Linked DNA regions of Homo sapiens. The protein of the gene in region 3 purifies or fractionates together with the protein of the main gene of each other region. This does not show direct contact. Each region holds a gene or a part of one and is shown on either strand. Other genes may lie near its edges.

Region 1 (9,938 bases), on a different chromosome or scaffold from region 3:
AAAAAGGGTGAAACTTTTTCTTAACCTCAAATCATGGAGAACCCTGAGTAGGTGGCTAAGAACTATTACCTTTGTTTAGTAAGCAGTGGGAAACAGTCAAGAATTCTGAGAAGGGCAATCAAAAACTCTGAGCAAAAAGGTATGTGCCACTATGCCTGGCTGATTTTTGTCAGGTTCATCTTTCAAAACCACAAATAAGTAACTGCACTGGCAAGGCTGGCCAGAGGCTAATGACACTACACAGATGCAGGAATAACTGTGAGGGTAGCAGCGGGGCAGGGAAGGTGGGAAATGTGAAAAATGCTACCAAGATTTAAAAAAGGACCAGACCTGGCAACTGATGAGTTGCAAAGTACAAGACAGAATTCAAGATGATTCCCTTTTCTGAGACAGGGTCTTGCTCTGGCACTCAGGATGGAGTGTAGTGGCACGATCATGGTCTACTGCAGCTTCCACCACTTCCCAGGCTCAAGTGATCCTTCTGCCTCAGCCTTCCAAGTAGCTGGGACCACAGGCGTGGACTACCATGTTCAGCTCATTTTTGAATTTTTTCAAAATTCATAGAGACAAGGTCTCACTATGTTACTCAGGGTTGTCTTGAACTCCTGGGCTCAAGGGATCCTACCACCTGGGTCTCCCAGAGTTCTGGGATTATAGGTGTCAGCCACTGTGCCAGCCAAGATGACCCTTTTTTGAACATGGATGACTGGGAGGATAGTAGTGTTACTAACAGAATATGGACACAAGGAACAGAAATAGAGAAACCGTCATTCTGGGTATATGAAGCTGTTGCTCTGGCTTGGTAATACTTTATGGCAATTTCTTTGCTTTCCTTTCAAGCAGTTTTGCTTTTATTCAGAAAAACAGAAAAGAATAAGATATGGCTTTTTTCCCAGAAAGTTTTAACCTAAAAATAGGGAACAAAGACAGGAAAGACAAGAGATTACTTAAAAACAATCGACATGGTCTCCAATCAAATATGGACTGCTCATCCGGCAACTACAGTTTCCACACTATGCCAATATAACACATTTGCGTCTGATCTTTTAAGAAATAAACTACTCCTACATGTTATTTTGTTCTATCGATAGTTATAGGAAAGCCTATATTTTTAAGTCAATCTAGCGTGGTAGTTGAAAAGGTGGACTCTGGGGCCAGAACGCCTGAGTTCAGATCCCACCTCAGCTTCTTGCTCCTTGTGTGTCTGTGGGCACACCGCTCACCCTTTCCTCATATGGAAAATAGGAATAGTAACAGTACCTACATGCGCTTCAGAGTGCTGTTTTGAAGATTAAATACATGGCATTTGGTGTTATATGTGTGTTTAATGTTATCTAAACATGTTAGAATCTTATATTGGTAAGATAAATTAACAGCTTTCTTCATTCTATTTACAAACATCAGAGAGCTTAGAAATAAGGAACTGAATATACATTAATTTTATTTGGAAGTGCTCTTATTTATTTAGAGACAGGGTCTCGCTTTGTTGCCCAGGCTGGAGTGCAGTGACACAATCTCGGCTCACTGCACACTCCACCTCCTGGGTTCAACCAATTCTCATGCCTCAGCCTTCTGAGCAGCCAGGACTACAGACACGTGCCACTATGCCTGGCTAATTTTTTTTTTTGTACTTTTAGTAGAGACAGGGTTTCACCATGTTGGCCGGGCTGGTTTTGAACTCCTGGCCTCAAGTGATCTGCCCGCGTCGGCCTCCCAAAGTGTTGGGATTATAGCCTGGAGCCAGTGCACCTGGCGAGAAGTGCTTTTAAACAGCAAAGAAGGAACCACAGTCTTACGTTTAATTATTATGAACTTAAAGCAAGTGATAGTTATATTAAAAGCTTATCCAGTACAAATATGTAACAACCTGATAGGCCAGGTGCGGTGGCTCATGCCTGTAATCCCAGCACTTTGAGAGGCTGAGGCGGGCGGATCATTAAGTCAGGAGTTCGAGACCAACCTGGAAAACATAGTGAAACCCTGCCTCTACTAAAAATACAAAAATTAGCCAGGCATGGTGGCATGCGCCTGTAGTCCCAGCTACTTGGGAGGCCGAGGTGGAAGAATCGCTTGAACCCGGGAGGCAGATGGTGCAGTAAGCCGAGATCACGCCACTGCACTCTAGCCCGGGCGACAGAGCGAGACTGTCTCCAAAAAAGAAAGAAAGAAAAAAAAAGACTTCATCCCTTGGGCAATCAGCCCTCCCAGTCATGTATCAAGGAAGGAAAAATGTAGAGAAGTCTGAAAATCTGCCCCTACCACAGCAAGTATTCTCTAAACTGCTCTCTAATAAATTTTCCTAAGATAGTCTATTCCTGTAATTGAAAAAAAAGGCTATGCAAATACCCTAAATTTAAAATACATGTTAGGCAGCATTTACATGCATTTGCAGCATCTTTGTAACTGCTCACTGCGTGCCCTCATCTAAAACAGCATGAAATTAAACATTATGTTATGGCACCCTCTTCTGGTAGCACGACTGAACTACTCTAATAAAATTACGTTTAGCACAGCAATTTCCCCTTAGGATTTAAACATATTACTGCAATAAGAATACTGCTCAGTGGTTACAACAATAAAATGTGTGAGGAAAGAGAGAAGACATCGAGAAGGATGTTATCTACCCTACAAGACATACGTGGCACTTGTCAGAGGTTTTAAGAATCTCAGAAATCAAGCCTCAGCCACTTAATCAACATTTTACTAAGCATCTGATACAGACAGGTAGGATGCTGGAAGCCAGGATACAGAGCTGACGAAGGTGGACCTTGCCCTGAAGTTGCTTGCAGTTAACAGCTACAACCCCAGAGACTTGTCTGGAGGGCATGGAATCATAGATGAAGGGATAAAAAATCAGACTAGGAGGCATGAGAAGGCTTTCTCTAGGTTTTGATAACTAAGCAGTTTTGAAAAAGGCCAAGCTAACTGGATGGACAGCGGGAAGGGAGCTTTTAGGCAAGTAGCAGCAATACGAACAGAGCTGAGACAACCACACATGTTTGCAGGGGAAAGTGGCTCGGTATAAAGTATCTGGGTCAGTAGCAGAAAAAGCAAAGGCCATATCACAAAAGGCTATATATGCTAAGTTAAGGAGTTTATTTATTTTTCTTTGGAGAACAGGGTCTTGTTATGTGGCCCAGGCAAATCTCTAACTCCTGGGCTCAAGCAATCTTCAGTTTCTACCTCCCTAAATGTTGAGACTACAGGTGTGAGCCACCATGCCCAACAAGTTAAGGAGTTTTAAACTTTTTCCTAAAAGCTATAGGGAGCCAATAAATGATTTTAAGCAACTAAGCGTCAAGATCTCATCTACATATTAGAGATATTTTCTATTTGCAGACATTTTAAGTTACTAGCACTTGTGAAGTCACTGAATAAATATCTAGTATGCATGAGACGTTATCTCCTAAATCCATAATTTAATAAAGTGACTGAAAACAAAACTAAACAAAGCTAAAATACGACTGAAAGCACAAAGAAAAAGTTGCAGTAGCTATGTGAAACCATTCTTAGTTACCTTTTAAACTCATCATGGTAGAACTCGGACTTGCAAGTTACCATCTCGCTACCCTGGGCGTCCTCACGACTTCGGACTCCCCCAAACACATACAGCTCCATAGCAACTCCACAGGCCACCGCTCCAAACCTGAAAGGCCACACACAGCGTTATCAGGCACAAGCTGTACAATGCGAGATCTCACTCCCGCGTTCCTCTTATGCTGGTTTAACTCTGCAGCATTACTACGTGGGCCTTCCTTTCTCAGGAAATGCCAAGTCAAAGAAAAGGTTACTCTGAAAGAAAAGAACAAAAGCCAGGCAGGGTAAGGGGCTCCAGACCCAGTGAACAGCAAGGGAATCTACAAAGTCCACCCCACAGCCACGTACCTCCTCTCTTTTAGTGGACATATGGCAGTCCACTGCTGGGTCCTGGGATCATAACACTCTACAGACTCAAAAAGCTTTCCGTAGGAGCCTCCACCCATGGCGTAGATTTTCTTTTTCATAGCTGCATAGCAGCCGATCTGAAAGCAGAGAACAATGGTGGGGGAGAGGCAACATTTCTCATTCAGGTCAGGTGAACAGATATTAAACTGTCTGGGCCATACTTAAAGAGATTTAGGAAGGGGTTTGATTTCTAACCGTAAAACGATGGTGCTTTTCAGTATTACAACACCGGACTTTAAAATGAGAAGAGCAAAGTAAGACACATATTCTTAATCTTCAGAAAAGGAGCTCTTACTCCAACTGATACTATTTCACTAACTGAAAGAAGTTCAAAAGCCTCATTTTTATTTATTTATTTATTAGAGACAGGGTCTCGTTCAGTTGCCTTGGCTGGAGTGCAGTGGTGCCATCATAGTTCACTGCAGCTTCAAACTCCTGGGCTCAACAGATCCTTCCGCCTCAGCCTCCTGGGTAGCTGGGACTACAGGTGCACAGCACTGTGCCCGGCTAACTTTATTTAAAACTTTTTTGTAGAGATGGGGGATCGCTTCAGCCTAAGAGTTCAAGACCAGCCGGGGCAACATAGTGAAACCCTATCTCTACTTAAAAAAACAAAAATTAGCTGGGTGTGGTGGTGCACACCTGTAGTCCCAGCTATTCAGTAGGCTGAGGTGGGAGGATTGCTTGAGGCAGAAAGAGGTTGCAGTGAGCCAAGATGGCGCCACCGCACTCTAATCTGGGCAACAGAGTAAGACCCTCTCTCAACAACAAAAGGAAAGAGAGAGAGAGAGTAAGAGAGGGAAAGACAGAAAGAAAATAGGTTGGGAAGATGTGGCTGCTGCACCATTTGCACACTCAAATGTGGAGCTTGACACACAGCGGTGCTGCACAGGGCCCACAAGCAGGATAAACTCTCACACACGCTCACTTTCCTATCTTGGTGTGTGGCTGATGACAGTGAAGGCAAACTACCGATAAAGAGAGTTCTATAAAGTTAATTCTTTTAACACCATCAGTTATATTAAAGGTTTATTCAGGATATGAAGACACATTAAGTTTAAAATCCAATGTGTACACAGACTAGTTATCACAAAATGCAGTCCTCACCTTTCTGACCATGGTCAAATCAGGTTGCTTTGTCCAGGTTTTAGAATAAATATCGTAACACTCCATGGAAATCAGCTCCTTTTCACCATCCTCTCCTCCCAAAATGTACAGCATCCCATCTATCTCCACAATTCCGAAGTTATGTCTTGCCTGAAATTACATTAGCGATCCCTGAACACACAAGGCCAATGATCATATTGAAAGCTGATATTCATACACTTAATAAAAATTAGAGAAACATAAAGATGGCAAAAATAGACAATGGGGACTCCTAGAGCAAGGAGACAGGGAGAGGAGCAAGGGCTGAAACACTAACTATTGGGTACGACGCTTGGTACCTGGGAGACTGGATTAATCTTACTGCAAACCTCAGCATTATGCAATATACACACATAACAAACCTGCACATGTATCCCCGAGTCTAAAATAAAAGTTGAAACTATTTTTAAAAATTAGAGAAATCTTTTTTCCCAGTGTTCCAGCATGGAAGTACCACGTTCAAAACCATTTCTCCGGTAATGCTTCTTAAAGATTTCTGGCTTCCCTAACAGCCCACTCTTCCAGCACAACAGCCAGAGAGGCCAAAGCCACTTCTCAAAACAAACTTAAGAAATACATGGTGAGTTCATCAGAAAATCCTCACTTTTTAACCCATAATAGCTCACAACAAGAAAATGAACTGTTACCTCTGGTTCAATACAATTATTTTTGCATAACAAAGGGCAGTGTTTTCAAGTTGACGTGGGAAAGGCTAGTATAAACTATGGCAGAAAGGGCTGTGGAGGACAGGGTCAGGCCAAGGCTATTTGGGATCATAGAAGCCCTAGGTGTTTCATGTCCGTTTGTCAATGAATATTTATGTAGTAAACCCTACGTGCCAAGCACGATTCTAGTGCTGAAAATGAAATACTGACCAGAACACATGTAATTCTCTGCCATCAAAGAGCTTATGTGAAAAACTTTAAATGCCTGGTCCGTGAGATGGTGAGACGTCGTACGAAGACGGGGACAGGAAAGCTAAGAGGCAGGAGGGAGGCCCGCTGAGAAGGTGCTGCGAGGAGGGGGCAGGCCACGCTGGCATCTGCACAGGGCAGGATAAATGTGAAGGCTGGGGTGAGGGCATTCCTGGAAGATTTCAGAAACTCATGGAGGCCAGAAGGAGTGAGGGCCAGGAAGGGGAGGAGAGCCGGGCACTAGAAGGAGAGGTTGGAGCGAATGAGGCAGGTGGCTTGACAAGGCTGCCGTTTCTTCCCTGAACTCAGACACAAAACAAACAGAAGCGCTAAGGGGAAAGAGAAACACATCAAACAAACCAACCAACTAGTGTTTTACCTCGTTCATAGGTGGCAATGCTGTCCATGTATTTGCATCTGGATCATACTTTTCTCCTGAGCTAAGAGTCTGCTTATTTTCATCTTGGCCCCCGAATACAAACAAAAATCCTTCTGCAAAGATCAAAGGAAACACAAATATGAAATGTGAGTCTTCAACACCCATAAACGCCACAGCATATATAGAAACAGCATCTGAAGAAACTCTCTGATGACAACAATGTTCTCTTTGGATTCAGGGCTTTTATCACATCCCATTGGATCCTTGGTGATGGAGCCAAACCATCACTTTGACCATTTTGCTTTACTCATTACTGTCTTTGAGGGGATTTCCACCACCCTACAATGAAAAAGGAAGCCTGGCGTCACCCGCTCAGTCACCAGGCAACTCTGGGCCATCTCAATTCATCTCTTCTGTTCCCTCTCAGCCTCTGGGATTCTCATACAACTTTTGCACCGCAGCGCACATCTGTTCATTCTAGACCCCAGGAATACCCAGATCTGAGGCATCCGTGTGCACTTTCTATTCAAAACAGGATCTAAGAGCAACTGAACTTCCGATTTCATGTAATGGCGTATTAGGTTATTCTTCTGCAAAAAACAATTTGCTGGATAAAACATTTAAAAAATAATCTTAGCCGGGTGGTGGTGGCTCAGCACTTTTGGAAGCCAAGCTACAAGGACTGCTTGAGCCCAGGAGGTTCATAGGAGGCAACACAGCAAGACTTCATCTCTACAAAAAATAATGAAATTAGCCGGGCATTGTGGTATTTGTCTATAGTCTCAACTACTCAGGAGGCTGAAATGGGAGGATCGCTTGAGCCCAGGAGTGTGAAGCTGAAGTGGGCTGTGATCATGCCATTGTACTCCAGCCTGGGCAACGAAGTGAGATCTTGTTTCAAAAATAACAACAATAATAATCTTCTTAGAAGAGGAGAAGCCAACAAGATAACAAGGCAAAACTGAAGGGAAAATTAGGACCTACAGAGGTTATCAAGCATGAAAACCATTTTACACTGAGGGCATTTCTAATCTAGGAAAATTTAAACCTTTTGTCCTGGGGATGAAAAAGACAGAAGTTTAAGCTCCAGGTCCACAGAAAACGTGGCTTCTGGCAGGAGATCCTCTCCAAAGTTCTACACTGTCAGGATGAAGGCCAACCAGAATTCGTACTCAGATTTAAATCTCCTTGCTATCTGGGAAATCATGAGCCTTGAACTTAACTTACAGTTAATACCAAATTAGTAGTGTTTTCAGTCAACTGGCAGAAACAAATGCAAAACTTCTGTAGAAGGACCTTAATCTAAGCCTTAGATTCTAACATCCCAGGACATCTAAGGCAGAAAGTTATTGCTACAAATAATTTTTTTTTGATTTTTTTTGTTTTTTAAAGACAGTCTTGCTCTGTCGCCCAGGCTGGAGGGCAGTGGTGCAATCACAGATCACTGCAACTTCTGCCTCCTGGGTTCAAGCGATTCTCCTGCATCGCCCTCCTGAATATCTGGGATTACAGGCACATGCCACCACATACCCAGCTACTTTTTGTACTTTTAGTAGAGATGGGGTTTCACCATGTTGGCCAGTTGATTTCAAACTCCTGACCTCAAATGATCCACCCGCCTCAGCCTCCAAAAGTGCTGGGATTATAGGTGTGAGCCACTGCGCCCGGCTGCTACAAATAATGTTTAATAAATGAGCAGCATGCAGCCACAGATATCAGACATACCAAAAATTAGACTCTAAGAAAAGACCAGCAGAAGCAGATCATAGGAAGTAGTCTTGCAAAGATTTCAAATATTATAGTAACCAGAAAGATGATTTTTTTCAAGTTGGGTGATGAAGAATAAAGTCTAAAATTTATTTAAAAAACAAAGATAATTTAAACAAATGCTTATCATGTTTAAAAAATAAAAATTAACTGGAAGATAACTCCAGGTAACAGGGAACTATAGAAATAAGAGAGGATTTGAAGGTAATGGTGGATTAAGTTATTCTCCTGTAAAAAGACAAGAATTTGTAGAAATTAAAAAAAAAAAATCAATGGATAAATGTAATAGCAGATTAATCAGAGTTAAGGAGAAAAGAAGATAAATCAAAAGATAATAATCAAGAAAACAGCACAGTGAGACAAAAAGATGGAAAATAATAAGAAAATTTTAAATACACACCAGAGAAGAGATTTTTTAGACTTGCCACTGACTTCACAACAATGGAAGGCAGAAGTCAGTGGAATGACTTCAATGTGCTGAAAAATGATAAATACCAAAGCTGAAATGCTATACTCAGCAAAAATATCCTTTACGAATGAAGACAAAATAATGACATTTGCAGGCAATCAAATCTGAGAGTTGTCCACCAAAAGACCCATATTAAAGGAAATTCAAAAGGATGAACTTCAGAGAGAAGGGAGATGATCCTAGGTGGAAAGTCTGAGGAGTTAAGAAGGAAGAACGAAGAAAGTGGCAAATCTAAATGAACACTATCTACCTACCTACCTGCCTGTCTATCAATCATCTATCTACCTATCTGTCTGTCCATCCATCTATCCATCCATCCATCCATCCATCCATCCATCCATCCATCCATCCATCCATCCAACATATATCAAAAAAAGACATATTGTGTATATAGTAGCTACCCCTTATCTGAAGTTTTGGTTTCTGTGGTTTTATCACCCATGGTCAACTGCAGTCCGAAAATAGGTGAGTTCAGTAAAGTAAGATATTTTGAGAGAGACCACATTCACATAACTATTACAGTATATTGTTATCGTCGTTTTATTATCAGTTATTGTCGTTAATCTTTTACTGTGCTGAACTTAAACTTTATCATGGGTATGGATGTATAGTAAAAACACACAGTATGTACAGGGTTCAGCACTATCTGTGGTCTCAGACAACCACTCGGGGGTCTTGGAATGCATCCCTCATTGATAAGGGGGATCTACTGTACATATTTATTAGTGATAATGCATTTTAAAACTGTAAGAGTATGGAAAATGGAAAATGAAGAAAAACTCTCCTGAAGAGAACACAGGTACTGACTAACTTTGGACTTTGCTAACTTAATACAGGCTGTAATTTCTAAGGTAATCTTCCTAAAGGACTATTAACAAGAATGTAAGTCCCAAACTGGTAGAGAAGAAAAATTGAATGACAAAAAAACAGTCAAAATCAATTTTTAAAAAGGCAAAAAAAAAAAAAAAAACAATGCAGCCTGGACAAACGGAAGGACCTCCTCAATCACTCACTTCTGTTTCCATCAATTCCACTGTACACAGTCGCTCCTTCCATTGCTGGGTTTCTGAAACACCAATCCCTCTAGCAAACTTTCAAATATTAGTCATATAGGAGCCTTTGTGACAGACGTGTATGTGTGAAAATTAGGAATATGTGTATATATTTTGGGGGAAATGTAAGGGAGCTAATTCTGAGAAGATGCAACAGGGAAACTAGACCTACATCCTGCAGGCTATACTACTCTGTCCAGCTCTTCACTACTGACAATAACTAATAATTTTGGGACTCATAAAATGACTCCACTTCTATACTATGG
Region 2 (9,938 bases), on a different chromosome or scaffold from region 3:
TTTTTTTTGAGATAGAGTCTCACTGTGTCACCTAGGCTGTAGTGCAGTGGCGTGATCTTGGCCCACTGCAACCTCCCCCTCCCAGGTTCAGGCAATTCCCCTGCCTCGGCCTCCTGAGTAGCTGGGACTACAGGCATATGCCACCACACCCAGCTAATTTTTGTATTTTTTTAGTAGAGATGGGGTTTCGCCATGTTGACCATACTGGTCTGAATCTCCTGACTGCAAGCGATCCACCTGCCTCAGCCTCCCAAAGTGCTAGGATTATAAAAGGTGTGAGCCACTGTGGCCAGGCCCCATTACTTATTTTTGTTGACAATGTCAAAGATCAGATAGTTGTAGGTGTGCAGCTTTATTTCTGGGTTCTCTATTCTGTTCAATTGGTCTATGTGTCTGTTTTTGTATCAGTGCCATGCTGTTTGGATCACTGTAGCCTTACAGTATAGTCTGAAGTCAGGTAATGTGATGCCACTTGGCTTTGTTGTTGTTGTTTTTTTTTTTTTTTTGCTTCTAATTGTTTTGGCTATTCAGGCTCTTTTTTGGTCCTATATGAATTTTAAAAGAGTTTTCTCTAATTCTGTGAAAAATGACATTGGTAGTTTGACAGGAGTAACATTGAATCTGTCAATTGCTTTGGGCAGTATGGCTATTTTAATGATATCAATTCTTTCAGTCCATAAGCATGAATTTTCAACAGTGTTTTGTATTTCTCCTTGCAGACATCTTTCACCTCCTTGGTTAGCTGTATTCCTAGGTACTTCATTTTTGTGTGTGTGGCTATTGTAAATGGGACTGTGCTCTTGATTTGGCTCTTAGCTAGAACATTTTTGGTGTATAGAAATGCTGATTTTTGAAAACTGATTTTGTACCCTGAAACTTTACTAAAGTCGTTTATCAGTTCTAGAAGCCTTTTGGCAGAGTCTTTAAGATTTCCTAGGCATAGAATCATATCATCAGTGAAGACAGAGTTTTACTCCTTTTTTTTCCTATTTGGAGGCCTTTATTTCTTTCTCTTGCCTGACTGCTCTGGCTACAACTTCCAATATTATGTTAAATAGGAATGGTGAGACCTTGTCTTGTTCCAATTCTCAAGGGAAATGGTTCGAGCTTCTGCCCATTCAATATGATGTTGGCTATGGATCTGCAAGACTATTTTCAGAATGACATTGTAAATCCATAACAGCAGTTCCAAAGAACTGAGGAACCTTTACACATTGCTTACACTATTAAGCATTTCAGGGGTATGTGTGATCTAAATTATTTTCCATTAATACTAACATCTTGGAGAGAAAGCCTTTTTCACTAAGCTAATGTTTGCACACATGGTGCAAAGGCAACAATGGGTAAAACTACCGGTAAGAAAGGCAATGGCAAAGTGAAACAGCCATCATCACATTCTACAGTGCTATGTGCTTGGAGAAAAAAAAAAAAAAAACAACAGAAGGCCAAGCACAGTGGCTCACACCTGTAATCCCAGTACTTTGGCGGGCCAAGGGTGCAGGATCGCTTGAGGCCAGGAGTTGGGAAACTAGCTTGGGTAACAAAGTGAAACCCTGTCACTACAAAAAAATATTTTAAAACTAGCTGGGCATGGTGGCACACACCTCTTAGTCCTAGCTACTTGGAGGGTGAAGTGGAAGGAGCCCTTGAGCCCGTAAGTTTGAGGCTGCAGTGAGCTAGTATCATGTCACTGCACTCCAGCCTGAGCAAGAGAGCAAGACTCTTACTCTAAAAAATAAAAATAAAAAAAAATAGACCCAATTTCACTTTGAAACATCCTTGGATGAAGCAGTAAAAATTAACTTTACTAAATCTCAACTCTTCAGTAGATACCTCTTTAATATTGTATATAACAAAATAGGAAACATACATGGAGCATTTTTGTTGCAGATCAAAGTCAGAGGATCAAGGAAAAGCACTGTAATTGAGTCGCTAAACTAGCCACTTTTTTCCATTTTTACTGAAAAGAATGGCAAAGCAATTGTGGTTATTCAGACTTGGGTATTTGTTAGATATTTTCTCAACAACAAACTAAACCACTAACAGTAAAGAAAACAATGGATAGCATTTGTTGCTAATGATAAAAATTAAAGCTCTCCAGCCAAAATTACAATTTTGAAAAATGTGTAACAACTATTCTGAGCTTGATAGCTTCCTGGTACAAGAATTTTCTAATAAGGTTGGTGAATTTAATGAGCATGTTATTTTGATATCTTAAATAATAAATCTGGAAACATTTGAAAGATCTGCATAACTCAGTGAACCAGTATTTTCCCAATGAACAATGAATGTCATTACAAAAATCATACGTGGGTAAAAGATCCATTCAGCATGCAGGATAAACCAGTAGACTCTAAAGAATATCCACCATGATCTGGAGAAAAGCTATTTTTAAAAAAATAATCACTATTCCAACCACCTCTCTTCACAAGACCAGATATTCTCCAAATACTCCCAAAAAAATAACATATCACAAAACAGATTAAATGCAGAAGATATGAGAATCCAGCTGTTTTCCATTAGGTCAGCCACTAAAGAGATTTGCAAAATTGGTACAGCAATGCCACTCTTCTCATTCAATTCTGTTGTTGTTTTGAAACTCGGTTTTCACTTAAATGTCAGTTGTGTTAACATTTAATGGGTTTACTGTTATTTGTTAATAAACAAGCTGGGCACGGTGGCTCATGCCCGTAATCCTAGCACTTCGCCAGGCCAAGGTGGGATGATTACTTGAGCTCAGGAGTTTGAGATCAGCCTGAGCAACATAGCAAGACCCTGTCTCTACAAAAAAAATCAAAAAATTAGCCAGGTGTGGTGGCACATGTCAGTGGTCCCAGTTACCTGGGAGGTTGACGTGGGAGGATTGCTTGATCCCAGGAGGGTCAAGAAAGCAGGGAGCCTTGTTCACGCCACTGCACTCCAGCCTGGGTGACAGAGTTAAGACCCTATCTCAAAAAAAAATTTTTTCAATAAAAAAAGTTAAGCATTTTTCAGTTTTAATGTTAACCCCACAAAAAACAAAATGCCTTGGGGAGTCCTCAAGTTTTAGGAATTTAAAGGTATCCTAAAACCAAAATGTTTTAGAACTGCTGTTTGTCGTTCTAAAGTAAACAGATCTTAAAACTAGAGGTAATATTTAATTCCTAACTGTTTCTATCTGTCCATAAAATTCACACATATGTTTTGTGGTTAAAAAGTCTTTAATATTTTATGGGATACGTATTCATTTCCAACAGGTCTCTTCATCTAGAGTATTCCATTTCAGAGAAACAAGTCATCATATCCCCTTTCAAAACTAGCATACCTTGAAAAGGGAAGATCAAAAGCTCAATGTTTACTTTTAAAAAGACACCCGTAAGTTGAATTAAAAATTTGTTAGTATGAGGTATTTTAGACATCTGTAATAAAAACATCTTCCCAAATGAAAAACTAACCATTTCAAGTGTGCTCTAACATCTTACAGGCAGCATTAAAAACAGTAGTAAAGAAGGTATTTTAATATTTATAAACTATGCTTGTTTTTGCTGTATAATATTTGAAATATACACATTTTATACTTGGAAAAAGGGATAATTTTTATGTGAAAAATATAATTCTAATTACGTGGTGAGAGAAATCTGTATATTATAGTAGTTCAAAAAATCCAAATCCATTTGTTTGTTATATCCTCAGCATGTCTTAAGCATATAATATGAAATATTTGCTAACTTCTATCTCCACTCTTTTTAGTGCACCTACATATTTTACCTGAAAGAGGATGTAAGAAACCAAAGGCATATAATTTGGTAGCTAAAAGACACAGCATCTTGGCACTCATATAAACATCAACGATCATCATGTTTAACATTCTCATCTGCAAGATGAGAATCTTATAGATAAGGAAAGTGAGGCCTAAGAGCATTAACTAACTTCTGTGGTCCCAAAGCTTGGTGTCTATCTGGACATATAAGAACCGAATTTCATTATCTATTGATAGCCTGGCTTTCTGAGATTTCATAATTCTTTTTTCTTTTCTTTTCTTTTTTTTTTTTTTTTTGAGACAGAGTCTTGCTCTGTTGCCCGGGCTAGAGTACAGTGGTGCAATCTCAGCTTACTGTAACCTCTGCCTCCCAGGTTCAAGCCATTCTCCTGCCTCAGCCTTCCAAGTAGCTGGGATTACAGGCGTGCGCCACCACACCTGGCTAATTTTTATATTTTTAGTAGAGAAGAGATTTCACCATGTTGGCCAGGCTGGTCTCAAACTCTTGACCTCAGGTGATCCACCTGCCTCGGCCTCCCAAAGTGCTGGGATTACAGGCATGAGCCACTGTGCCCAGCAGAGATTTCATAATTCTAATAACAATTTCCTATTGACTAAATAATGAACCTTTTCTCCAAGGCCCTTTGTAGAGTAAGGGAGGCAAGACTGATGTACAGAAATAATATATATATCAAAACATCATGTTGTATACCTTAAACATATACAATTTTTTTAAAAAGGTAAATTTTCAAAAGAAATATACAATAGGTTTTTCTAGCCAAGATTTATAGTCTTTACAAAGCTTTCAAGAAGCAAAAAACAAAATTTATCAAGAACTACATTTAAAATAAATCTCAGGCCGGGCTTGGTGGTTCACGCCTGTAATCCCAACGCTTTGGGAGGTCAGGGCAAGTGCATCACTTGAGGCCAGGAGTTTGAGACCAGCCCAGCCAACATGGCAAAACCCCGTCTCTACTAAAAATACAAAAATTAGCCGAGCGTGGTGATGCACACCTGTAATCCCAGCTACTCAGGAAGCTGAGGCAGGAGAATCATTTGAACCCAGGAGGCAGAGGTTGCAGTCAGCCTAGATCACGCCACTGCACTCCAGCTTGGGCAACAGAGCGAGACTCTGTCTCAAAACATAAATTAAATAAATAAATAAATTAAATAAATCCCATTTAAAAATATGCATTTCCCAATTACAACATGTTATATGGATTCCTCCAGAATTTGCAGGATTTTATAGCACTACTTACCAAAAGTTGTTCCACCAGCTTCTTCACATTTTGCCCCATTTCTGGGGACTGTGATCCACTACATGCTAGTTTTATTAACATTGCAAGGAAGTTCTTGCATTTCTTCACATTTTCTAGCATTGTCTAAATATGAAAATGTAAATATAAGCAAACACAAGTGTTAGTGAGCAAACAATTCAAAAGAACTTGCAAGGAACAAGATTTATGTAAGGTGCAAGTAAGAGCTTACCGGAGAAAGATTAATCTGAACAGCTGCTGAGTTCTCTGCTTTAAGATTGGGCTCATTTGAAGGAGTGGATGATGCTCCCAAACTTGAAGGCTTCAGGGTAGTTACAGTATTCAATGGCTTTCCAGGAGTAACTGTGACGACACTGGTTGGCACAGCCACAGACTGAAATTAAAGGTATTAAATATTTAGGCATGTATTACTATGATACATTAGTGGGTGCCTCATTTCACACTCATCAGACAAGTTAATTTTGACATCTGTGGTTTTATGTTATGCTCTAGTAGTCTAAGGCAATATAATACAGTTCTAGGAACTCTTGAGTCTAGCAGATCTGGGTTTCATTCTCACCCCATCTACTATTTCATTACCACCTACCAAGTGTTGACTGCAGGCAAGTTACTTAATCTTGCTAATCCTGATTACTCTCTGCAAAAATAGGGATTGCAACGGTACCTGCTGTCCTAGGATTTTTTGTGAAAAACAGTGCTAAAGCAAATAAGTCCTCAAAAAATATTATTAATACTCCAAGAAGTATCTGAAAGTCTTTATGAGAACATAGAATATTCTGCTTTTTCTTAAGAACAAAGCAGAGCAATCTACTTATTATCTAAAATTTAGATAAACTGCTTTTATGTAGACCATTAAAGTAAGCATGAAGAATATTATAAAACGTGGTATCTTATATTCACACTGAAAAGAATTTCAGTTGTTTCTCTACCTTCTATCAAAATGAGGTGTGACTCTAGCTAGCATCACCTACAGGACAAAAACCTCATACAAGCAATCACAAGTCAGGCAGTAATTTAGAAAATCACATTGAGATAAAGCAACAATCTTAAAGACAAACACTAAAAGTTACAGAACATAATAAAAGTTTGGGGATCAGGGATAAGGAATAGTATTTACATACAATTCACACAGAAAACTGAACAATGCACCATCATTTAATTTAAATGTCTATGTTCTACAAGCATGCAACACAAAAAGGTCAAGTTGCAATCACCTTCAAGAAAATTTCCTTCTATAATAGTCAAGATAGGTGAATTTGAATGTACAATAAAATCTCCCACATTAGAGAGACTGGAATATGTACTAGACAAGAATGTTCTGAGGGTAAAAAATGGGAAGAAGGACAAGTGCAGTGGCTCACACTTACAATACCAGCACTTTGGAAGGCTGAGCCAGGAGGATTGCTTGAGGACAGGAGTTCGAGACCAGTCTGGGTAACCTAACAAGACCCTGTCTCTAGAAAAAAATTTTCTTTACAAACAGGAAGAACATTTAAAATGCTGAGAATTGATAGAAGGAGAGGAGTGGGGACACATGGTGGCCCTAACATGGGTTTGGGGTATATGGGCCTTCATTTTACTATTATTTTTTTCAACAGCAGACATATTACATATGTGTACATATTACATATGTGTACATATCACATGTAGTCTTGTTTGCATGTATATTTCATAATGCATAATAAAAATATTAAATACCATATGCTAATACATTTGAAACAAAACCAAAAGGGTTTTTGGAAAAACATGAAATGACAAAATTAGCACAAAACACAGAAACTAGAATAGACAAATTAAAGACATTGAAATGATACCCAAAAAGACCTCCCTCCCTCAAGTCTCCAGGCTCAGATATTTTCCATGTGATTTTTCCACACTTTTGCATAACTCCTGTCTTATACAACATGTTCTAGAAAAACAGAATAGGGAAAGCTGTTCAGTTCATTTTATGAGAAAGGTCTGTAACATATTTCAATATTGAATAAGGATAATAAAAGAAAAGTAAACTAAAGGCTCACCTGGCAAAAACTTTAATAAGATTTTAAAATTACTGATTAATGATGAGGACTAGAACAATAAAGTTTTTAACAAAAGAGATAAAATTAAAAATTACACCTAAGTTAGTACAATTTTGTTAAATATAGAGCCTCAAATGCACATTCAAAAGGAAGTCTCCCTCCTTTTCATATCTTTAGTCCTGCTCTCCAACCTACCACTCAGTTTCTTCTGAATTCTTGTGGAGATTTTCTAATAAATTTTTAGTTTTCTATACAGTAAATAAGCCTCTTTCTTTAGTCTATCTTATAATCAGTCATTAACTCTCTGTACTGCCATATTTAAGAAAGTGTAATCTGGAATTTTAGCTGGTGGTTATGATCACCTCTGAGGACTGATGGGAGAGGTTCCTTGGGGGTGTACTGTCCCCCTCCCTCAGGAAGCAAACTAAGGTCCAACTGAAATGTGAGTTTAGGAAAAACGTCCTATCGTTTACAAGTAGAGGGGGCATTTATGGAATTCTATTTTCCTTGTCAATGTTTTATCCTGTCTCCAGTAAAAAAAAAATCTGTCCTTCATAACACTTTCTAGTATAGCTACTACTTGTATCTTACCACAGGGGTCCCCAACCCCTGTGCCGCGGGCGGGTATAGGTCTGTGGCCTGTCAGGAATAGAGACACACAGAGGAGGCAAGTGAGCATTACTGCCTGAGCTTTGCCTCCTGTCAGGCCAGCGGTGCCATTAGTCTCATAGCAGCATGAACCTTCTCGTGAACTGCACATGCAGGTGATTTAAGCTGCACTCTCCTCGTGAGAATCTAATGCCTGATGATCTTGATAGACGCAACCGGAAGATTAGGGGAAAGGTTCCAGAAGAATCCCCCACGCGCCTGCCCACTGGGAGGAGGAGGGGTGGAGCCTCAGGAAGATCAGGCCCTTTGCAAGGGGGAGGAGCCTGGCCTCTCCTGTTCCTGTGTGGTGACCCGAGATTCAATTTGTGAGATGGGGGCCTGCTAACGGGAACCCCTCTGGCTTTGCTGAGTTTTTTTTTTCTTTTCGCCTAATAAATTCCATTCCCCCTCACCCTTAAAAGTGTCTTTTTTTTTTTTTTTTTGAGACGGAGTCTGGCTCTGTCCACCAGGCTGGAGTGCAGTGGTGCGATCTCGGCTCACTGCAATCTCCGCCTCCTGGGTTCAAGTGATTCTCCTGCCTCAGCCTCCTGAGTAGCTGGGATGAGAGCCGCCCCCCACCACACCACCCGGCTCATTTTTGAATGTTTAGTAGAGACAGGGTTTCAACATGTTGGCCAAGCTGGTCTCAAACTCCTGACCTCAGGTGATCCACCTGCCTAGGCCTCCCAAAGTGCTGGGATTACAGGTGTGACTCACCATGCCTGGCCCAAAGTGTCTTAAACTCAATCACAACTCCGCCTTTGACTCAACAGACCAGCCAATGGTAACTTCAATGCTTTTCAAGGCTGCACTGACTGACTAGGCATGTCTTGAGGACAGGAGGAAAACGGACTGAAGTATATGTGAAATAAATGTGTGAAAACCAATTCTACACAGAGCCAATAAAATGAGTTGTATGGAAATTTAGAAGATGAAATAGCATTTCAAGGAGGGTCATTTTCTGTACCTGTCTGAAACAGCAATTGCTTTAGGTTTATTCACATTTAATTAGAAATACTAGTCATTTGCACATTAGATTCCAATCTAACAATGGGCCAAACTACATCTTCATCAAATACAAGGTAAAAGTGAACACAAGATTTCTAACTAGTTCTTGTGTTATATTTATCAGACTAAGCCTAATAGGAAAATACTTTCAAAATTTCTTAACACACACATTTGCATTTACAGTCTGACAATCAAGTACAAGGAGTTGTATCTTCTCTCATTTTTAAGTTCTAGCTCCTTATTTCCATGCCTAAAACTGAGATGCTTATCCCTTAAAGTGGACAGATATCATTAACTTCATTCTTTACTAATTTCCACTGTTCTAGGCTACCACTAAGGAGTAGCCCAACTTAAAATATGCATCAACCTAAATTAGCTAAGAAAAATAAATGGTCCACACAAAAATATCAATGACAGATTAACATGAGCATTTTAAAATAACTACAAACACGAGGAAACATACAAATTTCAATTATTTCTATTGTGACAAAGTCACAGATATGTACTAACACAATGTAATACTCCATGGTTCTGTAGTTTGAAGCCTACATTTGTAGCTGAAAGAAATTCTAAGTTTTAGTTTAAGCTTAGTAAAGATTTTCCCCCTCAAAATGGTTCCATAGTTTGAAGCCTACATTCATAGTTGCAAGAAACTCTAAGTTTTAGTTTAAGCTTAGTAAAGATTTTCCCCTTCACCTGAATTCACAGGCTCCAGGTTGTCTCTTTTATAAAAACTACTAATAAAGGCTGGGTGCAATGGCTGATGCCTATAATCCCAGCATTTTGCAAGGCAGAGGCGGGAGGATTTGCTTGAGCCCCAGGAGTTCAAGAACAGCCTGGGCAACAGAGTAAGACCTCATCTCTATTTTTTAAATAAAGTAATTTTTTTAAAAACTACAAATATAATTAGTGATCACTGGCTATGATTACTAAGTAAATGAACACAAGCTTTCATGTTCTAGAACTATTAAGACTTCAACGAATATTCAGAGAGCACAGAAATAGAATTGTGGCTGTAGCTGGCAGGGGACAAATTAAAGCCCATGGATGTAGAGAATCCCTAATACACTCTAAGAAGTAATATCCAAGAAACTCACTTTACCACTAAACTGGCTCCCAAAAGGGCCCTGAAGAAGTAGTGTAATGGAGTTCCTTCAGTTATCCCAGCACAACATAATTTGCTCTCTGTGTCCTGAAGAGCCATAATGTGCAAATGGCAGTCTTAAGTATCTAAGATCATGTTGCTAA
Region 3 (9,938 bases):
GAATTAAGAACTTTTTTTGTCTCAATGCGTGAATGGTTAAAGAAACTGTGTTAAACTATGGTGCCTCCATGCTACTCAGCAATAAAAAGAAAGGAACTACTGATACACACAACCACCTAGATGGACCTCAAGAGAATTATGCAGAACTGAAAAAGCCAACGTCAAAAAGTCCCATACTCGGCCAGGTGCGGTGGGTCATACCTATAATCCTAGCACTTTGGGAGGCTGAGGTGGGCGGATCACTTGAGGTCAGGAGTTGGAGACCAACCTGGCCAACATGGTGAAACCCCATCTCTACTAAAAATACAAAAGTTAGCTGGGTGTGGTGGCACATGCCTGTAATCCCAGCTACTTGGGAGGCTGAGGCAGGAGAATCTCTTGAACCCGGGAGGTGGAGGAGTTGCAGTGAGCTGGGATCGCTCCACTGCACTCCATCCAGCCTAGGCGATAGAGCAAGACTCTGTCTCAAAAAGAAAAAAGTCACATACTTTATGATTCAATTTATAACATTCTTTCAATAACATTAGAGATAGAGAACAGAGTAGTGGCTGCCAGGAGAGAAGTGGAAGAGCAGAGAGGTGGATGTGATTGCAAAGAGACAGCATGAGGGAGAACTGTACTGATGCAATGGTTCTGTGTCTTCACCATTTGTGTGCTGGTGGTTACACAAATCTACACGATGAAACTGCACGGAACAACACACACATAACACACACGTGCACATGGTGAAAACTAAATAAGCTCTATGCATTGTACTAATATACCATCTACATTGTACACTGAAACTGAATGCAAGGGTTTTGATATTGCACCACAGTTATGCAAGATGCTACCACTGGGAGAAAGTGGGTGATGGGTACATAGGATCTCTCTCAACATTTTTTGCAACATCTTGTGAATCTATAATTATTCCAAAATTAAAATTTAAAGAAAGATCAATCAGAGATACGTATAGACACATTTAGATTAAATGACACAGGTCTGGAGTTTGCATTTAAAAATACTCCAGAAGAGCCAGGCGCGGGGGCTCACGCCTGTAACCTCAGCACTTTAGGAGGCTGAGGCAGGTGATCACCTGAGGTCAGGAGTTGGAGACCAGTCTGGCCAACATGGTGAAACCCCATCTCTACTAAACCTACAAAAAAATTAGGCCAGGTGCGGTGGCTCATGCCTGTAATCCCAGCACTTTGGGAGGCCGAGGCGGGCGGATCATGAGGTCAGGAGATCGAGACCATCCTGGCTAATGCAGTGAAACTCCATCTCTACTGAAAAATACAAAAAATTAGCTGGGCGTGGTAGCAGGCACCTGTAGTCCCAGCTACTTGGGAGGCTGAGGCAGGAGAATGGCGTGAACCTGGGTGGCGGAGCTTGCGGTGAGCTGAGATTGCACCACTGCAATCTTGACAATCCACTGCAATCCAGCCTGGGCGACAGAGCGAGACTCCGTCTCCAAAAAAAAAAGAAAAAATTAGCCAGGCGTGGTGGTGGTGGTAGATACCTATAATCCCAGCTACTCAGGAAGCTGAGGCAGTAGAATCATTTGAACCCGGGAGGCAGAAGTTGCAGTGGGCCAAGATTGCACCATTGCACTCCAGCGCGAAACTCTGTCTCACACGCACACACACGCACACACACACACACACACACTCCAGGAGGAAAGAAAATAAAGGACAAAAAGTGGGAGAAACAGATGAAACAGAATCAACAAGCTACTGACAAGTGTGGAAGCTTGATGAGGCATATACAGGGGTTCATATATTTTGCTCTCTAATTTTGTATTTGAAAATTTCCAAAATAAAAGTTTTACTAAGTTCCCAGGTGTGCTTAGGCCAACACAAGGGCTAAGCCTGACTTATTTGTCCACATTGCTGTTAACTTTTGAACACAAATTAAGTTCAAAGCTTACAGTTCTATTTATTTACAAAGTTTTTATTATGAATTTTTATTGAGATTTTCATAAACATTTTTAATCTGCATGTTTACTACTTTTGGCCTCTAAGAAGTCCCATAAAGTTATAAAAAATAGAAATTTATAAATACACATTGAGAATTTTGCATTTTTATACAGGGTCAATGTTTCAAGTTGTCTAACCCTTTCCCTGTCTCCCCTCAGAACAAAATTATAAGAGTATAGCCTCTGAGGCCAGGCGCGGTGGCTCATGCCTGTAATCCCACCCACACTGGGAGGCCGAGGTGGGTGGATCATCTGAGGTCAGGTGTTCGAGACCACCCTGGCCAACCTGGTGAAACCCCGTCTCTACCAAAAATACAAAAAAAATTAGCCGAGAATTGTGGTAGGTGCCTGTAATCCCAGCTACTCAGGAGGCTGAGGCAGGAGAATCCCTTGAACCCAGGAGGTGGAGGTTGCAGTGAGCCGAGATCACGCCATTGCACTCCAGCCTGGGCGATAAGAGTGAGATGCCGTCTCAAAAAAAAAAAAAAAAGAAAAGAAAAAAAAAGAGTATAGCCTCTGAAATCTCAACAGCAGAAATAGCAGCCCTTTTCCAAATCCCACCTCTAACTCAGCACATCTGCATTCAACAGGTGCTTACACTGGATAACAACAACAAATGGAAGCTGCAGAAACACTGACTGGGACAACACCTCCCAAGAGCAGTGAGAACAGCTGGGATTGGCCACGGCTTGAATGTGGGGCTGTGTTCATAAACTTATCAGGCCAAGAATCGCTAAGAACTGAATCACAAACCCTGAGAAGGCCACATAGGCCAGTCTAACTGCTTCGATCTAGGAGAGTTTCACGTTACTACAAACCTGAAAAACTCCTATTTAGTCCAGTTGGGGAATCCAATTTTTTTTTTTTTACTAGCGTCCCCTCTTCCGTTCCTGACAAGCAGCTCTTTCCTTACACAGTACAGTGAGGCCAGAAGAACATGGAGCCTGCTGTCAAGTCCCCAAGTTTTTCAAGTTTCCAAATTCACCAAGGGAATGGAAGACTAAGAGATGGGCTGGGCACCGTGGCTCACGCCTGTAATCTCAACACTTTGGAAGGCCAAGGCGGGTGGATCACTTGAGGCCAGGAGTTCAAGACCAGCCTGGGCAACATAGCAAAATCCCGTGTCTACTAAAAAAAAAAAAAAAAAATTAGCCAGATGTGGTGGCGGGCATCTGTAATCCCAGCTACTCTGAGAATTGCTTGAACCCGGGGAGTGGAGGTTGCAGTGAGCCGAGGTAGTGCCACTATACTCCAGCTGGGGCGACACAGCGAGACCCTGTCTCAAAATAAAAGGAGTTGAACTGTGGAAGCCAAAGGGGAATACATGAAGCTAAATATGGACGTTAGGATTCTAATTTGGGAAACAAGCTTATTCATCCAGTGTTCACTTCCACGTGTTGTTACATTTTTCTTCCTTGGATTTAGTTTTAAAAACTCTTCCTTAGGAGACCAGAAAAGCTATCAGCATGCCCAGCATCTTCCTTAAAAACTTGTTTTCTGGTTTGTAGGGTATGTTAAGAATGAAGTTGTTCTCCCCACAGGATACAAATTGGTTGGACAGACTCAGACCTGCTTCTTGCAGAACGCCTCAGCTTGGCTCACTCCTGCCCATCCACCAGCCTTCCAGCTGACCAGCCGTTTCTCAGCTTTCAGAATACAAGATGAGGCCCAGCCCTCAACACCCCACCCTCACCCCACCAAATCCTTTCCTATTGTTTACTTTATCCTTTTTTTATTTTTTTGAAATGGAGTCTCGCTCTGTCACCCAGGCTGGAGTGCAGTGGCACGATCTCGGCTCACTGCAACCTCCGCCTCCCAGGTTCAAGTGATTCTCCTGCCTCAGCCTCCCGAGTAGCTGGGATTACAGGCATGAGTAACCACACCCGGCTAATTTTTGTATTTTTAGTAGAGACGGGGTTTCACTATGTTGGCCAGGCTGGTCTCGAACTCCTGACCTCAAGTGATCCACCTGCCTTCGCCTCCCGAAGTGCTGGGATTACAGGCGTGAGCCACTGCGCGTAGCCCCTCTTTCCTACTGTTTAAACCCCATGGCTCCTCTGTCAAGTCCCAGCATAATAGAGCCGACGCTCTAGGCTCTTGTCAGAGAAAACCTCTTCTTCCAGAAGGGGTAAGACTTGGCAGTTCCCAAGCACACATTCCTCACAGGGGCAATAAATGGTAAATCTCTCAGGAGGAGAGTGCTGCCCCGCTTCAGGGAGCTTTCGTCAAATGCCGACGGGAGGACAGGTGCAGCCCCGACATGTCGTTCTTCTTCACAGTGATGCATCTGCTCAAGACTCCTGACTCCTGCCCACCCCAAACAAAGCTGTGCTGTGTGGCCTCCTGTTTCCGACACGTTGAGGGAGTACAAAGAACTTTTCATCAGCTCAACGGAGCACTTGGGAGGCCAGATGAGGAGAGAAATAAGAATGAAGTTCTGGGATGAGAAAGTGGTGCCACAAATTGTGAGTCAATAAAAGGGATCCAGATATCCTGAAATACACGCTGGACAAACAGTCTTCCTTGTAATAAGCACAGCAGCAAAGAGCCCTTTCCTTCCTGTCACTTTCCCTGGTCTCTTGAGTTTCAAAGGAATCAAATCCTGTGATAATGAACGAAGTCACTGGCTGCTGCTATGCCCCACCACATAGCCTGATTGATTAAGAAAGTCTCTGGTGGGGTGCGGTGGCTCACGCCTGTAATCTCAGCACTTTGGGAGGCCGAGGCGGGTTATCACTTGAGGTCAGGAGTTCAAGACCAGCCTGGCCAACATGGCGAAACCTTATCTCTATTAAAAATACAAAAATTAGCTGGGCGTGGTGGCTCACACCTGTAATCGCAACTCTTTGGGAGGCCAATGCGGGTGGATCACTTGAGGTCAGGAGTTCAAGACCAGCCTGGCCAACATGGCGAAACCCTATCTCTACTCAAAATACAAAAATTAGCCAGCATGGTGGCGCTTGCCTCTAGTCCCAGCTACTCGGGAGGCCAAGGCAGGAGAATCACTTGGACCCAGGGTTGCTGAGACTGCAGTGAGCTGAGATCACACCACTGCATTCCAGCCTGGGTGATAGAGTAAGACTCCATCTCAAAATAAAAAAAAAAATTCTCATTATTCTGTTCATATCTTCCTCAACCCAAACATCCAGTGAAAATAGGTCATCTTAATAAGACGGTTTGCCATGAAAATCATGTCCGATCACACCCTGCAGCCTCGGCTTGGCCATGAGGAGGTCACCCTCTTCTTCCCTTGAGTGGCTTTAACTCCCCGGGAGGGTGGAATCTGCGCCCCTGTACAAGCCAGGTTTCCTTCTCAGCTCAGGAGAGGGACCTAGAAAGAAGAGGAACCATGGAGCCTCCTGGTGTGGGCCCTGTCTGCTCTCCTTCTAGGGGAAAACTGCTCCAGTGCTGTGAGGGTTGGTCCCTAGACTGCAGGACACTCAACCACTAAGGAACAAGAGCTATGTACGGGAGCCAAGTAAGGACAGGAAAAGGGAGACTATTCCCTCTCACCAGAGTGGCTTTCCCCAAGGCTCCGCCCCACTGAGGAGACTCTTCCAAGAAGCAGAGAAGACCACCTCGGTGGGACAGTGAAGGCTCTCTGGACCCCAGCCTCCAACTCACTTCTTCCTGCGGATCTTGGGCTTCTTCACCGGCCGCAGATAAGGGTTATCGATGATGTTCTCCTCCCCATTCCGGCTACCCGACAAGGAGGGGTTCTGCTGCAGGACAGAGGTGTTCTCCTTCTCGGCTCCAGAATCCTCCTTTGAGCAAAAGCCAAAATAAAGCACAACATCAACAGCATAAGGAAAGAGATCATGCCTATAATTGGAATGACCATTAGCATCCTCTAATTGAGAAATTAGAACCTGGGAAGCACCTTCTTTCCAACATTCCTATCTCTGCCCCGATGAAGCGAGGACCAGGCAGGGGCTGGCTATGAAGGGAAGGCAAGACTAACAGCCTTGACCCAAGAGAGCACACAACAGAGTCCAGAGTTTTGAACCTCTGGAGAAGGCAGGGACAGGGGTTAGAAAGAACAGACACCTGGGAGGGACAGGAATCAAATTCAGATGCCTCAGGGAGGATGCCCGGCCAGGTGGGGAGATGAAGAAGAAAAGTGATCCTGGATGCCCTGCATGACTGGGAGATACAGGATCAGAACACATCATCTGCATAGCGCATCTCCTGGCCAAGCTAGATAGACTAAGTCAGAACAGATTTCTCCCTCAAATCCTCACATTTCTGGTACTTGCAACATGGTACCAACAATCACATCCCAGCACAGGCTAGAAACTTCTTGAGCCTTGAGGGTTCCACTAAGGGACGCAGAGCCAGCAGGTACCAGCACATGCACATCATTGGTAATGCCTATCTGCAACCTATGAGGCAGGGTTTGTTTGTTTGCCTGTTTGAGATGGAGTCTCCCTGTGTCACCCAGGCTGGAGTGCAGTGGCGTGATCTCGGCTCACTGCAGCCTCCGTCTCCGGGGTTCAAGCAATTCTCCTGCTTCAGCCTCCCAAGTAGCTGGGATTTCAGGCATGTGCCATGACGCCCGGCTAATTTTTGTATTTTTAGTAGAGACGGGGTTTTACCAGTTGGCCAGGCTAGTCTCGAACTCCGAGGCAGGGTTTTTTACTGTTCATTTTTTTTTTTTGAGATGGAGTCTTCTTCTGTTACCCAGGCTGGAGTGCAGTGGTGTGATCTCAGCTCACTGCAAGCTCCGCCTCTGGGTTCAAGAGATTCTCCTGCCTCAGCCTCCCAAGTAGCTGGGAGTACAGGTGCCTGCCACCACATCCCGCTAAGTTTTTTATTTTTAGTAGAGACGGGGTTTCACCATGTTAGCCAGGATGGTCTCGATCTCCTGACCTCATGATCTGCCAGCCTTGGCTTCCCAAAGTGCTGGGATTACAGGCGTGAGCCACCGCGCCCGGCCGCTTTACTGTTCATTTTTTGAGAAAAATGTGTTTTTTCAGAAAAGTTTGTAAGTTCACATGTAATCAGTATGATCAAAATTCTTAAAAAGTCACAGTTGTGTATAGACACAGAAAAAAAGGTAATATGCTGACATTTTAAAAACTGTTCTGGAAGTATGAGCAGTCAGTTATCCTGTCTTTATTCACAGCCTCCTTTATTTTCCACGTTTGGTCGGGCTGCGCCCCCTGGTGATGGGCCAAGGGGAAGAAGTTCTTCCACGGGGAAGAAGTCATTGAGATTCCTGTTCTGCAACTTGAGGCTAAAGAGGCCCTCACTGACCTCAAGCAGGAGAGGCTGCTGTCAAAACAGACAGAGGATGCCATGACCGGATGGCATGAAATAAATAGCAGGTTCCCCTGACAGGACAGCTGGCCTAGGGCATGGACACCAGTCTCAGGTTTAATGAGCCAGAAGAAACCAGATCACATCTAGGTTCCCCTGCGTGCCCTCTCCCTGTCCTATCAATTGTTCTCTTCAAAGACACAGTTCCATTGGCCCAGTATCAGGGCCTGTGTGTTTTCCCTCTCCAGCACCCAATCCAGTGGGACCACAAGGTGACCCAGAGCCACTGGGGCCTTCCAGAGACTCTTGAAAGCAAGTGCTGCAGGACCAACCTAGTTCAGGCCAGACCAGGTGCCGGAAAAAAGGTCTGCCCACAACCAGACCTCCCTTGGGTATCTGGCATCCAACCTTTCTGAAGTTCCTAATGGTACAAATGAGTAGTATCTCCTCGCTCCGTCCATCCTATCATTTCTCTACAGTAGACAGCCTATCTTCAAAGTTACTGGAAGCTCACTTCAACCGTGCCTTCAATGTTTTCTGAGATACACATGGAGGTAACACTGTTAGAGGTGCTGAAAACGCCAGCCTCAAGACACTGCTGGAGGGTCAAGAGGCTCCCTCCATTCGGCCCACCGTGGCTCACAAGAGCAGGACGGCAGGCTTCCTTCTCCCAAGCAGGCCTCATAGAAATGTCCCCTTCAGGGACAGGCAGCACTGAGATGGTTAGGGGTGGGGAAGTCAGCCAGTTAAAAAAAAAAAAAAAAAAGTAGGCCAGGCGTGGTGGCTCACGCCTGTAATCTAGCACTTTGGGAGGCCAAGGCAGGTGGATCACCTGAGGTGAAGAGTTCGAGATCAGCCTGGCCAACATGGTGAAACCCTGCCTCTACTAAAAATACAAAAAAATCAGCCGGGCATGGTGGTAGGCGCCTATAATCCCAGCTACTTGGGAGGCTGAGGCAAGACAGTCGCTTGAACCCGGGAGTTGGAGGTTGCAGTGAGCCGAGATTGTGCCACTGCACTCCAGCCTAGACGACAGAGTGGGACTCTGTCTCAAAAAAACAAAAAAGTAAAGTGTCAAACTGACCCAGAGATTTGTAAAAAAAAGTGGGAGCAGAATGGTCCGTCAGGAGCTCCCTGAATTGCCTGTGAGCTCTAGCAAGGCCTACACCCTCTGTGGTGACTGCATCCAGTCTCCCAGCTCTCAGTGCCATCTCTACGCCAACAGCTCCCTGGAGTACAATGCCAGCCCTAACCTCTCCCGACTTCCAGGCTCATGCAGCCAGCTGCTCACTCAGCATTTCCACTGGGGTATCAGGTAGGCAGTTCAGACTTCAGGCACCTAAGTCTGAATTGGGGACCTTCCCCTGTGGTGTAAACGGCGCTTCTCAGTCCCTCCCATCACAAGTGATGGCAACTCCATCCTTCTAATGGCTCGAGTCACAAACTCTGTGGTCATTCTTGCTTGTTTTCTTTCTTTTATTTTTAAACAGGGTCTCACTATGTTGCCCAAAACTGGACTCAAATTCCTGGGCTCAATCTTCCTGCCTCAGCTTCCCAAGTGACTGCAACTATGGGCATGCACCACCACACCTGGCACACTCCTTTTCCTTCACTGACATCCCATACCCAATCTGTTAGCACAGCCTCTTGGACTTACCTTCAAAATTCAGGCAGGCACTGACCACTTCCACCACCTCTGTGGCAACCACTCTACTTGGGCCCACCACTGCCTCTCGCCTAGGCTATAGCGACAGCTTCCTGACTGATCTCTCTAGTCCGTTCTTACCGAGCCATCAGAGTGGTGCTTTAAGAAGCTCAGAAACATCCCTCCTCTGCTCCACGCCCTCCCACAACTCCCATCTCTCTTAGTTAAAAGCCAGCTCTTAAAATAGCCTACAAGGCCCTACCCAATCTGACCCTCCCTCCCACAAGCCACTCACTATTCCACAGGGCCTTTGCACTGCCCATTCCCTCTGCCAGAACACTCTTCCCCAGATATCCACATGGCTCACTCCCTCACCCATTTCAAGCTCCTGCTCAGATATCCCCTTCTCAGTAATGCCTACTCCGAGCACCCCACTTAAAAACTGAAGACTCCTCCTCACCCTGGATCTTCCCCTACTGTTTTTCCCCCACACAGCACTTTCATTTCTGATATACTATGCAACGATTTAGTCATATATTGTGTTTGGTATCATTCTCCCACAGCCAAACTCTGCTCCTAAAAGGCAGAGGTTTTCTTTGTTTTTCTCACTGCTTTATCCCAAGCAGCCAGAAAAAATATCTGGCACATACTAGGTGCTAAATAAACACTGGTTGAGTGAGTGACTGGTATATTTTTCATAAAAGAGTAAAAGCTTAGATATCTGGGTTGGCTGCAGAGAGCAGCTGGTTCAAATGTGTGAGAAAAGAATCTATTATACATGAATTTAAATTATACATGAATTTAAAATGAATAGCTCCTTTATGTTCAAGTACATGGAGAAACTAGAACCAGGTTAAATAATGTACTGCCTAACAACAGACCTTGAGAGGTGCACTCTCATCAAGAGATAAAATAATAATTTAAAATACCTGTTATTGGCTGGGCGTGGTGGCTCACGCCTGTAATCCCAGCACTTTGGGAGGCTGAGGCGGGCGGATCACGAGGTCGGGAGATCGAGACCATCCTGGCTAACACGGTGAAACCCCGCCTCTACTAAAAATACAAAAAAATTAGCCGGGC

The links.
Region 1: the proteins of TAF8 (region 3) and GAN purify together in Homo sapiens (co-immunoprecipitation; 2 studies listed by BioGRID and IntAct, with this or other methods). This does not show direct contact.
Region 2: the proteins of TAF8 (region 3) and TAF4B purify together in Homo sapiens (affinity purification with mass spectrometry; 3 studies listed by BioGRID and IntAct, with this or other methods). This does not show direct contact.

What each region holds. Positions count from the first base shown.
Region 1 is NC_000016.10:81,359,058-81,368,995, reverse strand, and holds part of GAN (gigaxonin), read right to left. Parts: intron 6,498-9,938; coding exon 6,385-6,497; intron 5,203-6,384; coding exon 5,053-5,202; intron 4,023-5,052; coding exon 3,886-4,022; intron 3,647-3,885; coding exon 3,518-3,646; intron 1-3,517. UniProt on the Homo sapiens protein: Probable cytoskeletal component that directly or indirectly plays an important role in neurofilament architecture.
Region 2 is NC_000018.10:26,270,114-26,280,051, reverse strand, and holds part of TAF4B (transcription initiation factor TFIID subunit 4B), read right to left. Parts: intron 5,390-9,938; coding exon 5,228-5,389; intron 5,122-5,227; coding exon 4,999-5,121; intron 1-4,998. UniProt on the Homo sapiens protein: Cell type-specific subunit of the general transcription factor TFIID that may function as a gene-selective coactivator in certain cells.
Region 3 is NC_000006.12:42,072,880-42,082,817, reverse strand, and holds part of TAF8 (transcription initiation factor TFIID subunit 8), read right to left. Parts: intron 5,719-9,938; coding exon 5,579-5,718; intron 5,286-5,578; coding exon 5,273-5,285; 3' UTR 3,083-5,272; coding exon of another isoform or gene 3,043-3,082; 3' UTR 1-3,042. UniProt on the Homo sapiens protein: The TFIID basal transcription factor complex plays a major role in the initiation of RNA polymerase II (Pol II)-dependent transcription.